Linked DNA regions of Homo sapiens: region 1 is linked to region 2. The links come from fine-mapping of genetic effects on gene expression. A gene starts in region 2. The other region holds a variant in brackets. All regions are shown on one strand. Distances are between the middles of the regions.

Region 1 (2,914 bases), 260 kb before region 2:
CCCTACAACAGCACCGAGTCTATTTCAGGGCAACCAGTGACCAGGGCTGAGAACTTGTCCCAGACCACCAGCTTCCCCACTGACAAAGCAAGCAGACTCACAGTTTTTCGGCATCTCAGGGGGCCTGCAACAGTGATCCAGTTTCTTCAAAGGGTCTGTGGATTCTCTCAGCTTTCCTGGTATGTTCCTGCAGTACTTCTTGGAGCAAAGGTTTACAGTACGAGTCTCCACATGCTGCTCTGTCCATCTCAGCAGGAGCTGCAAGCTGGTCCTGCCTCCTATCTGCCATCTTGCCCCCATGCATTTATCTGAAATCAAAATACTTTTAATAAAAGCATTATACTACTAATATTCCAGTGTGAAAGTTCCTTTCTGCTCATATTAGAAATAATGTGAATCTTTACTAATCTGATAGGCAAAAAAAATCATCTCTCATCATTGTTTCAATATAACTCATTTTTGCTCTCTTCTGAAATTTCATACTGTGGATGTGACATAATCAATTTTCACAACCCCATATTATTCAGAGTGTTCCAATATTCCCTATTATCTACACGACATGGATAGCATCTTTTCAGAGTCTGTGCACTGGTAGTGGTTGTAATCCAGGGCAGAGTTCCCATGGCTATTTGCTCTGGTGAGCTGAATGGGTCCCCTTGGAGCCCAACAACTATGTTGAGAGAATTGTAGTATTGTGATAACAGAACCTGGTTGATGTAGGAGTGAGTGTGTGTGTGTGAGAGAGAGAGTGTGAGTGTATGTGTGTGCTGACAACCACATTTCCCTTTACTTCCTTCTGGCTTGTGTCTTTGCATCTCATTTCGTCTCCCTTTCTAAATTCAAGCCCAAAAGTGAAAAAAGGGAAATATCAGGATGGCAGTACTTGTAACCAGATTTTAATCAACATTCTTCACTAAGTCCTGAAGATAAACATATAAAAGGAAATGCTAGCACAAAGCGTGTGTGCCTATGTAGGCCTTGATAAGTATTGCTCTACAGACACTCATAAAGTAGTGCCATTTAGACTCCCCAAGTATAGGGAGGTGAGAAAGGCTACAGAGGAATGAAGAAAGTACTGAC[G/A]CTGACAAGGTGTTGCAGAGGAAAGGCCCTGGACTCTGTGGTGGACACACATATTGGTCATTTGTCTATTTTCGGTTTTGTTGTCTGTGCTTTTAAGGTCTTAGCCATAAAATATTTGCCTAGACCAATGTACTAAAGTGTTTCCCCCAGGTTTTTGTCTAGTACTTTTATAGTTTCAGATCTTACATTTAAGTCTTTAATTGATCTTGAGTTGATGTCTGTATATGATGAGAGACAGAGATGCAGTTTCATTCTTCTGCATATGCATATCCAATTTTCCCAATACCATTTATTGAGGAGGATGTCCTTTCTCCAACGTACGTTCTTGGTGCCTTTGTTGAAAATCAGTTTTGTCTGTAAACATGTGGATTTATTTCTGCGTTCTCTATTCTGTTCCATTGGTCTTTGTGTCTGTTTTCATACCAATACCATGCTGTTTTGATTACCATAGCCTTGTAATATATTTTGAAGTCAAGTAGTGTGATGCCTCCAGCTTTGTTCTTTTTGGTCTGGATTGGTTTGGTTATCCGGGTTCCTTTGTGGTTGCATATCAATTTTAGGATTGTTTTTTCTATTTCTGCAAAAAATGTCATTGGTACTTTGATAAGGATTGCATTGAATCTGCAGATTACCTTTGACAGTATGGTCATTTTAACTATATTAATTCTTCCAGGCCATGAGCATAGGATATCTTTCCATTTGCTTGTGTCCTCTTCAATTTCTTTCATCAGTGTTGTGTAGTTTTCCTTGTAGAGGTCTTTCACCTACTTGGTTAAATTTATTCCTAGGTTTTTTTTTTGGTAGCTATTTCAAGTAGGCATGCCTTTTTAATTTCTTTCTCCACTATTTCATCATCAGCTATTTCGTCATTGGTGCATACAAACACTACTGATTTTTGTATATTGATGTTCTATCCTAAAACTATATTGTATTTATCAAATTTGGGAGGGTTTTGATGGAGTCATTAGGTTTTTCTAGATATAAAATTATATCATTTGCAAAGAGGAACAAATGTAAAGATATCCAACTTGGATATCTGTTATTTCTCTTGTCTGATTGCTCTGGCTAGGTCTTCCAGTACTATGTTGAATAGTAGTGATGAAGGTGAAAAAACAAGACCCTTGTCTTGTTCCAGTTCTTAGATGAAATGGTTTCAGCTTTTCCCCATTCATTATGATGTTAGCCCTGAGTTTATCATATATGGTTTTTATTATTTTGAGTTACGTTCTTTTGATGCCTAGTTTCTTGAGAGTTTTTATCATGAAGGGATGATGAATTTTATCAAATGCTTTTTATGGATTGGTTGAGATAATCATATGGTTTTTGTCCTTCATTCTGTTGATGTAATGTATTATGTTTGTTGATTTGCATATGTTGAACCATCTTTGCATCCCTGGTATAAATCCCACTTGATCACGGCATATTATCTTTTTGATGTGCTGTTGGATTCAGGTTGCTAGTATTTTGTTGAGAACTTTTGCATCTATTTTCATCAGGGTTATTGGCCTGTAGTTTTTTGTTGTTGTTGAGTCCTTGTCTGGTTTTTAATATCATAATAATGCTGCCCTCATAAAATGAGTTAGGGAGAATTCTCTCCTCTTCAATTTTTTTTCAGTAGTTTGAATATAACTTTTGTTAGTTCTCCTTTGAAGGTTTGGTAGAATTCATCAGAGAAACCATCCAGGTCTGGGCTTTTCTCTGTTGGAAAATTTTTATTACTGATTCAATCTCATTACTTACTATTGGTCTGTTCAGGTTTTCTATTTCTTCCTGATTCAATCTTGGTAGGTGGTATACGTCCAGGAATTTATCTATTTCCTCTAGGCTTTCCAAT
Region 2 (2,914 bases):
GAATCCCCATATTATTGATATCTGTCTTTCAACATTCGGGGTTTTGCTGGTGGAATATTCTCGTTTTGTTTAGGCCCTGCTTCAAGGTTCTAGAGATAACAACTCCTTCTCTTGACGTCATACTCTTCTCATTACTCCCTTCTCCAATTCTGAGGATTCACCACTAGGTGCGCCACATCCCCTTGCTCTGCGCAGCAGAAAATGGGGGAAGGGCGCCACATATTCTAGAAAACAGGTCGTGAATTGGTACTTGTCAGTATGTCTCCCTCATCACCCCTACCTCCAAAGCTCACCCTTTCAAGCCCCCAGTTTAGGACGGTGGGGGAGGCAGATGGGGATGGAAGGTGGGGGAAGCGCCTGGAACACCATTAGAGAGGGGAAGATTAAGAGGTGCTCCTGGATGCCTGACCTGCTCTGGTCGCAGTCCCCCACCCCGATTCGGTTCTCCAGTGTTTGGCACCCACCCCACATCCCCACACACCTCCAGAAATCCAGGGAATATTCGTGCTCCTCCTTTATTTCAAGCCTCTCCTCTACAGATGCTCACTGTGTCCTGTCAGAATACGCCAGACCTACCGCGCAGACAGACTTTGACATCAACCTGGAGTCTGTGGGAAGGGACAGCACCCAGGACACGGGGCCCCACAGGCCCCTTTCCGGAATCAGGGCCCGGAGCAGCGAACGCGACCCACCTCCCACGGGCTAGGCACAGAGCTGGGACGCTGGCCCACGAGGGCCCCCCCAGGCGCCCCCCAACTGCCTCCCGGGCGCCCCCCAACACGGCTCCCGTTTGGCCATTTCTCCCGCAGGAGCCTCCCCCACAGCCGTCTCTCGGTACCGAAACCGTCGAGGGCTGCGCGCGGGCGCCTGCAAAGCTGGCTGGGAAGCGGTCAGCGCGGTTCTCCTCCAGACGATCTGACGGTGCCTCTGGAGCCAGCCCCTCAGCCCTTGGTCCGGCCTGGCCCGCACCAGTCACCGCCTCCCCATAGCCAGGGATCTCGGGCACTGCGCACCTCTCTCTAGCGCCCGGCTCCGAACGGATCGTCTCCTCGTTGCCAGGCTGTCAGGGTCCGGGGGGCAGGTTGCCAGCCGGTCCACCCTGGCGGACCACCCCCACACCACGGCCCCCCACCTCACGCACCCCTACTTGCCTTCAGAGGCCCAGAGCCCAGGTCATCGGCCTCCCCCTCCTCTCTTCAGCTCTCCTCTGGCTGCTCTTCAGTTGGATTCCCACCGCTTTCCCAGCGATCCGAATGGCAAAGACGAGTCCCGCCCCCCACGCCTCTGCACCAAACTGGGCAGGGGCTGCGCAGGATGCGGCAAGAACCGCTCTCCGCGAGGGTGTCGGGAAGGGGGGCGGAGGGATACGGCGCGAAAGTGCAGGACGCCCCCCCTCACAGAACCACCATAGTTCCGACCCAGAGGTGGGCGGGGCCAGGACGAGCCCCAGCCGGGGCCTGCGGGTTGGCACCAGGCTGCCTCAGGAGGACCCCGCGGACCCTAACGTGGCGACGACCACCACATTTCTGGCGCTGCTATAATATATGGCACCGGCGGGCGGCTGCGGGGCCGGGCGGAGGACAGGATCGCGAGGTCGCGAAGAGCCGCGCTGGAGGGAGCAGCGGATGGATACCAAACCGTCCCTTGGTGTGTCTGCACCCCCGCCCCAACCGCCCCCCTATAAGGACTGCTGGGTGTTTGCCCTCTCCCCCTCCCTAGTCTGCTCACCCTCCTTCCTGGATGTTAATGGGAGAGGGGGTGTCAGCACTGCAGTGTGGGAGGGGAGAGGCGATTTCAGTCCAGACAGGCCCGGGGTTCTAGGGTGGTCGTCCTGTGCGTTTCTTTCCCAGCTTCGTGGAGCCACGCAGGGGAGGAAGGTACACCTGCTCTTAAGTGAACTCCGGGGCAGGGGGCTCCCATCAAGGACTCACCACTGCCCCTCTTCTAAAAGAAGGTAGACCTAGACCTCTAACCCTAGGAAACCAACCACTGGTCTGCACCAGACTCATTTCTTTCTGCCACACCGCTGTTTCTCATTTCAAATGGTGGCTCACGTTGGCATTGCACCGTCCCCACAGTTGCCCCCAAAAGAGGACCTTTCCCTGTCAGGACCCGCAGGAGGTCATAACAGTCCTCTCTCTTTGATGCCGCCAGGTAGGGATGGTCCTGGCTTCTCTTCGGTTCCCTGTCAAGTCTTCTCTTGCCATGATATTTGGCAGTGTGGAAATGTGGCTGGTATCAAACCAGCTTGGATCTCCGCCACCTGCCACAACTACCTATTGTTTCAGCAGTCATTCTCAGGAGAGGATCCCACCGTGCACCCCCCTCCCCGAGACAAAGCAACCTGGCTCATTTGAATCCTCTTCTTTCACCCCCACATCCGTCCTCTACTCTTGAGCCCCTCCTTTCCCTGCTTCCTGCATGGGACAGACAGAGCAATGTGGTTAAACACCAAGTTGATGTTGTTACTGTTGTCCATTTGAAAACTCATTTAGACACTACCCTCATTGTGTTTGGCAGGTAACGGTCCCCTAAAGATGTCCATGTCCTGTTCTCCAGAACATGTACCATTTTATATTACCTGACAAAGGATCATTAAGATTGCTATTCAGCTGAGTTTAATTTAAGATTATTCTGGGTTATCTTGGCCAATGTAATTGCAAGGGTACTTTAGATGTGGAAGGCAGGGACTCCATGTCAGATTGAAGCAGCATAGAAAGTCTACACTGGTCATCGTTGGCTTTGAAGATGGAAGGAAGCCAAGATCCAAGAAATACAGGCTGTCTCCAGAACCTGGAAAAGACAAAGAAACAGATTCTTCCCTAGAAATGCCAGAGGGATAGCTCCTCTGGCAACATCTTGATTTTAGTGTGGTGAAGCCCTTTGAAGATTTCCAACCTTCCAGGACTGTAAG

Direction of the effects. Alleles are on the strand shown, and positions count from the first base shown. SD is a standard deviation of normalised expression in the study named.
As copies of G replace A in region 1, the expression in cerebral cortex of the gene that starts at base 1,264 in region 2 goes up (small effect, 0.35 SD a copy in GTEx).

What was found. PIP is the estimated chance that this variant, and not a neighbour inherited with it, causes the effect. A credible set is the group of variants that fine-mapping cannot tell apart.
Region 1: its variant is the best candidate, but not a certain one, in a credible set for the expression of GPRASP1 in cerebral cortex (GTEx, PIP 0.73).

Annotation. Positions count from the first base shown.
Region 1 is chrX:102,908,223-102,911,136 of GRCh38, reverse strand. All of the region lies in intron 10 of LINC00630 (long intergenic non-protein coding RNA 630), which reads right to left. Among named protein-coding and RNA genes, the nearest start is that of RAB40AL, 28 kb to the left of the region's middle. The variant G/A (reference allele first, on the strand shown) is at 1,081.
Region 2 is chrX:102,649,833-102,652,746 of GRCh38, reverse strand. It overlaps GPRASP1 (G protein-coupled receptor associated sorting protein 1), which reads right to left and starts at 1,264. Exons shown (of 6, transcript NM_001184727.2): 1 at 1,152-1,264; 2 at 1,014-1,060; 3 at 482-572. The region is part of intron 4 of ARMCX5-GPRASP2 (ARMCX5-GPRASP2 readthrough); the gene reads right to left.